Linked DNA regions of Homo sapiens: region 1 is linked to region 2. The links come from fine-mapping of genetic effects on gene expression. A gene starts in region 2. The other region holds a variant in brackets. All regions are shown on one strand. Distances are between the middles of the regions. Region 1 holds the start of LOC124904610 (a long non-coding RNA gene). Region 2 holds the start of BTBD2 (BTB domain containing 2).

Evidence for each region. PIP is the estimated chance that this variant, and not a neighbour inherited with it, causes the effect.
Region 1: its variant is fine-mapped to the expression of BTBD2 in thyroid (GTEx, PIP 0.92).

Annotation. Positions count from the first base shown.
Region 1 is chr19:1,985,390-1,988,279 of GRCh38, reverse strand. BTBD2 (BTB domain containing 2) reads left to right here. Exons shown (of 9, transcript NM_017797.4): 6 at 588-780; 7 at 1,027-1,114; 8 at 1,304-1,450; 9 at 1,631-2,832. The coding sequence ends at 1,792. LOC124904610 (a long non-coding RNA gene) reads right to left here and starts at 588. Exons shown (of 2, transcript XR_007067086.1): 1 at 1-588. The variant T/C (reference allele first, on the strand shown) is at 1,824.
Region 2 is chr19:2,014,008-2,016,897 of GRCh38, reverse strand. It overlaps BTBD2 (BTB domain containing 2), which reads left to right and starts at 1,184. Exons shown (of 9, transcript NM_017797.4): 1 at 1,184-1,601. The coding sequence starts at 1,195. It overlaps LOC107985278 (a long non-coding RNA gene), which reads left to right. Exons shown (of 4, transcript XR_001753845.2): 4 at 1-553. RefSeq lists silencers at 1,378-1,527, 1,538-1,587.

The DNA of each region.
Region 1 (2,890 bases), 29 kb after region 2:
TGCACAGTCCCTCTGCCTGTGACATCTCTGCACCGGGATTAAGAGCCTGGCTCTTGGAGTCTGCCTGGGGTCCGCTAGCCATCACCCCTGGGGGTGTAAGCGCTTGAGAAGGTGTCTGCCTAGGGCCCACCGTGGAGAGGAACCCCCAGACTGCTTCTAGAAGCCAGGGCTGCAGCCTGGGGGGTACAGGCCTAGCAGGGAGCCACAGTGACCCCTCCCAGCCAATGGCCCTGAGAGAACAGGCAGTGGAGCCCCCCGCCCCCACCCACAGTGAAGTGACGGGTGGTCCCTACAGTGGGGCCAGACCCTGAGACATCACCCCTGAGTGAGTGCATCTGTCAGACCCTGAGGCATCGCCCCTGAGTGAGCGTATCTGTCGGCCTCTGGTCTGTGCCCTGGGACCTCTCCCTAAAAGCCCAGGCAGCAGGGGCCATGGCTGGTGGCTAGTCCCCCGGGGAGGGGCTGCCCAGGTCCCTGCACCTTGAAAGTCCGACGCAGACATCTTAGGGGGAAGGAGCGTGTCCTCCCAGGCACTCGGGATCCTGGGGTGCAGCCCGGCCCTCCCCCACACCCTCCCTGTGCTGCAGGTCCCGCACAGTCGGGCATCCTGGTGGACCGCGAGGTGGTCAGCCTCTTCCTGCACTTCACCGTCAACCCCAAGCCACGAGTGGAGTTCATTGACCGGCCCCGCTGCTGCCTGCGTGGGAAGGAGTGCAGCATCAACCGCTTCCAGCAGGTGGAGAGTCGCTGGGGCTACAGCGGGACCAGTGACCGCATCAGGTGGGGCTTGGGGTGCAGGCGGGGGGGTCCGGACATGGGGGTGGAGGACTCGGGGATGACGGAGATGGGGGGCCGGGCATGGGGGTGGAGAACTCAGGGATGATGAAGACGGCGGGGGGGCCGCCGGGCATGGGGGTGGAGGACTCAGGGACGATGGAGGGGACCGGGCATGGGGGTGGGCTCGCCCCAGCTCACCTTAGGCTATCCCTGGGTATCCACGCTGCTGCCTGTCATCTGCCACGGCAGGTTCTCAGTCAACAAGCGCATCTTCGTGGTGGGATTTGGGCTGTATGGATCCATCCACGGGCCCACCGACTACCAAGTGAACATCCAGGTACCAGCCCCAAGCCTCATCCCCAGGCCCCACTCAGGCCCATGTCCTCTCTCCACCTCCATGGAACCCTGGCTGAACCCCCGGCCCTGGTCCCTGTGCTGCCCCCACCCTGGGCAGGTGGGCTGGGCCTCGAGGGGTCCCCGTTGGCCCTCCCCAGGCCTGAGCCTCCCACTTCCCACCTCCCCGCAGATTATTCACACCGATAGCAACACCGTCTTGGGCCAGAACGACACGGGCTTCAGCTGCGACGGCTCAGCCAGCACCTTCCGCGTCATGTTCAAGGAGCCGGTGGAGGTGCTGCCCAACGTCAACTACACGGCCTGTGCCACGCTCAAGGTGCGCCGCCGGGGACAGGGGTCCCTCCGTGGGAGTCTCTGGCCCATCCTGAAGCCACCGGGGCACAGCACACACTCTCCAGAGGCAGCCACCCTGGCCCAGTCGGGGCCTTGCCCTGTCCACACCTGGGGCATCCCAGCCTGGTGGTCCTTGACCTCACTGTACCCCTATTCCCTACAGGGCCCAGACTCCCACTACGGCACCAAAGGCCTGCGCAAGGTGACACACGAGTCGCCCACCACGGGCGCCAAGACCTGCTTCACCTTTTGCTACGCGGCCGGGAACAACAATGGCACATCCGTGGAGGACGGCCAGATCCCCGAGGTCATCTTCTACACCTAGGCTGCCCGACACCGACACCGCCCTCCCTCCG[T/C]GGGGATAGCCGCAGCCCCAGGCCATCATCTGCTGCTGGGGCCCCCCCACCACGCGGTGCCAGGCCCAGTGTCCCCCAGGCCGTCTGTCCACTCCATGCCACCTTTCTCAGCATCAGGACGGGGTTGCCCTGTGTTCACCACGAGTGTGGCTGCTGGATCAGGGCAGCCGGGGAGGTGGCCAGGCCAGTGGCCAGGCCCTGTGGAGACAATCCCTCAGGACTAGGGACAGGGCTGTGCCGGCCTGGGCCAGGGCCCACGGACCCGCAGCTCAGGGCGCCTGCCCACGTCGTCTGCCGGCGGTGCGCCGCGGGCGTCCCTCGCGTCTCTTCACTGCACATTGCAATGCATTTGCGATTCCCATTTCTCTGCTAGGAGCCAGCCTGGGTGGCGCTGCTCCCAGAGCCGTGGGTCCCAGACCTTGCGTTCCTTTTGTTCCTGTCCGTTTATCAGGACACGGGCCCCACCTGTCACGTGCCCGAGGCCACCCAAGCCCAGCCTGCGGGGCGTTCCCACTGCCTGGATGCCGGCTTGAGTTCTGCGCACGCAGGATTCAGTGTGGGGACGGCCCCTGCCGGATAGGCCTAGCCCTGGCCCAGGTGGTGAGCGGTTTGCAGTGTCCGTTCTCATCCACCTGATGGGCCCAGATAAAGGCCCCCGCTGTCCAGCCTCCCTGGACGGCCCTCGCGGTCCCTGCAGCCCAAGATGGGACTCAGACCCTGTGCCCCAGAGCTCCCCTGCCGCAGAATGGGGCCCCAGCCGGCCCCGACCGGGTCCAGGAGCACTGCTCGCCTGTACATACTGTTGCCCTAGCCCACCTGGTGCCGTGGGAGCCACCCCCAGGTGCTGGGGGCACAGCCCCTCCCCACTCCGGCCACGCCCCCACCCACCCCGCGTGTTTCTGCCCTGTGACTCCTGGAACCTGCGTCCTCCCCAAAGCCATGGGAGGGGTGTCCTCCTCAGACCATGCCCCCAGATGATTTTTTTAAATAAAGAAACAAATGCACCTGCCTTGAGCGCACACTGCTTTGCTCCCCTTCACTCTCTGCCCTGTCATCCGGGCTGCAGT
Region 2 (2,890 bases):
TGATCCGCCCGCCTCGGCCTCCCAAAGTGCTGGGATTACAGACGTGAGCCACCGCGCCTGGCTAATTTTTGTATTTTTTGTAGAGACAGGGTTTTGCCATGTTGCCCAGGCTGGTCTCCAACTCTTGACCTTAGGTGATGCACCCCCCGCCTTGGCCTCCTGAAGTGCTGGGATTACAGGCGTGAGCCACTGCGCCCGACCTGGTTCCTCAATCTTTGTGGCATTTGTCTACCTTGACATTATGTATGTAGTAAGCGTTTTGGGGGAGTCCCAGCTCCGTCCACACTGACCACCCCCCACACCTGGCCTGGAGAGGGTGCTGGGCGTCTGCTGAGTGTCAGTGCACGTGGCCTGCATCCTGCTCGCTCATCCGCAGCTTCCCGGCCTCAGGCTATGTCTCTGTACAGCGGAGCCTGCGCCACGGAGCAGGCCCGCCACCTGGGTCCGGGGTCTGGGGTCTGGAGTTTGCGCTTGGTCTTTGGGTTGGGGGTTCCGGGTCTGAGGTATGGGATCTGGAATCCGGAGTCTGAAGTCTGGGGTTCAGAGTCTGGGATCTAGGATTCAAGGTCTGAGGCCTGGGATCCCGGACTGAGGTCTGTGCTCCAGGGTTTAGGATTCCCGGTCTGGAGTCTGGGGCCTGGTGCCTGGACCCCAAATTCTGGACCTCGGTCTGGAGTCTGGGCTTCAGGTCAGGATGCTTAGGGAGTGGAGCAAGAGGTCTTCCACCAGCTCCTCCCCTCTACAGGCCCCTCCTACTCTTCCCTCTCCTCCCCGTCCCCTCCCCTGCAACAGCCTCCCCCATTCACCTCCCTTCTCCCCTCCCTCCTCCCCTCCCACCTCCCCTCCTTTCCCCTCCCTCTCCTCCCCTCCCTCCTTCCCCCTCCTTTCCCCTCCCTCTCCTCCCCTCCCTCCTTCCCCCTCCTTTCCCCTCCCTCTCCTCCCCTCCCTCCTTCCCCCTCCTTTCCCCTCCCTCTCCTCCCCTCCCTCCTTCCCCCTCCTTTCCCCTCCCTCTCCTCCCCTCCCTCCTTCCCGCTTCCCCTCCCCTCCCTCCTCCCCTCCTTTCCCCTCCCTCCTCTTTTCCCCTCCCCTCCCTCCTCCCCCTCCTCCCCCTACTCTCCTCCTTTCCCCTCCCTCCTTCCCTCCTCCCCTCCCTCCTTCCCTCCTCCCCTCCCCCGCCCACGCCGCAGCCACAAAATGGCGGCGGGTGGGAGCGGCGGGCGTGCGTCGTGCCCGCCGGGGGTCGGGGTCGGCCCGGGCACGGGGGGCAGTCCCGGGCCCAGCGCCAACGCCGCCGCCACCCCGGCCCCCGGCAACGCGGCCGCCGCCGCCGCCGCCGCCGCCGCCGCCGCCGCCGCCCCTGGGCCGACGCCGCCCGCCCCGCCGGGCCCCGGGACAGACGCGCAGGCCGCGGGCGCGGAGCGGGCGGAGGAGGCGGCGGGCCCGGGGGCGGCGGCGCTGCAGCGCGAGGCCGCGTACAACTGGCAGGCCAGCAAGCCCACCGTGCAGGAGCGCTTCGCCTTCCTCTTCAACAACGAGGTGCTGTGCGACGTGCACTTCCTGGTGGGCAAGGGGCTCAGCTCGCAGCGCATCCCCGCGCACAGGTGGGCGCCCCGACCCCGCCAGCCCTGGCCCCGACCCACCCAGCCTGCTGCCCGGGCCCTGCACCTGAGGCCCTGCACCCCTCTGTCCCCGAGACCCCCGCACCCCTCCATCCCCGAGCCCTGCACCCCTCTGTCCCCGGGACCCCTGCACCCCTGCATCCTCAGGCTCCGAACCCAACTCGGCCTGCACCCCGGGGCCTGCACCTGAGGCCCTGCACCCCTCTGTCCCTGGGACCCCTGCACCCCTCCGGTCCTGAAACCGACCCGGCCTGCACCCCGGGGCCTGCACCCTTCCATCCCTAGACTCCACCCAGTTCCCTGGGCTCTGCACCCCTCTGTCCCTGCCTCTGCACCTCTCTGTCCCCAGACCCCACCAGGCCTGCACTCTGGGCCTCTGCACCCCTCCATCCCCAGGCCCCCCTGGATCCTCCACCTCTGGCTTGCGCCCCCAGCCTGTTCCCCGGGATCCCAGGCCCTGTACCCCTGGGACCCCTGCTCTCCTCCGTCCCTGGACCCACCCAGCCTGCACTCCGGTACCCTCCGTTCCTGGGACCCTCCAACTCGGCCTGCACTTGGAGCCCCTGGGCCCCTCCATCCTCAAACCCCACCCAGCCCGCACCCCAGAACCCTGAATACCCCATCCTCAGGGCCCTCCACCCCCCGCCTGCACCCTAGGACCCTCCATTCTTCCATCCCCAGGACGCTCCATCCCTGGACCTCACCCCTCCCTGCACCCCAGGTCCCCAGACACCTCTGCCCCCAGATCCCTGGGCCCCTCCACCTCCGGCTGGAACCCCTGCCTACACCCCAGGCCCCTCCATCCCTGGACCCCACCTGGCCTGCATCCCTGGGTCCCCTCCATGCCCTGGCCCTGCACCCCCACCCACCACCCCTGGGACTCCTGTGACCCTCCAACCCTGGGACGTGTACCCCTATCTGCTCCTCCATTCCCAGGACCCCAACCCACTGTTTCTAGGACCCATGACCCCACATGCCACACCCCTCCATCCCTATACCCGGGGATCCTCAGGACCCCTCCATCCCCAGGCCCTGCACCCTTGCCTGCCGCCCCTCTCCCCCTGGGACCCCTACTGGTGACCCCTCCGTCCCTGTACCCAGGGACTCTCCAGGACCCCTCCTTCCCCAGGTCCTTCACCCCTGCCCACTGCCCTTCCACTCTCTACTCCCGGGGCCCCCTGGGACCCCACTACACTCAAGTGTGTCACCCCTGCATCCCAGGATGGAGAGACTTCTCCGCTCTCACCTGAGACCCCCCGTCCCCAGTCCTC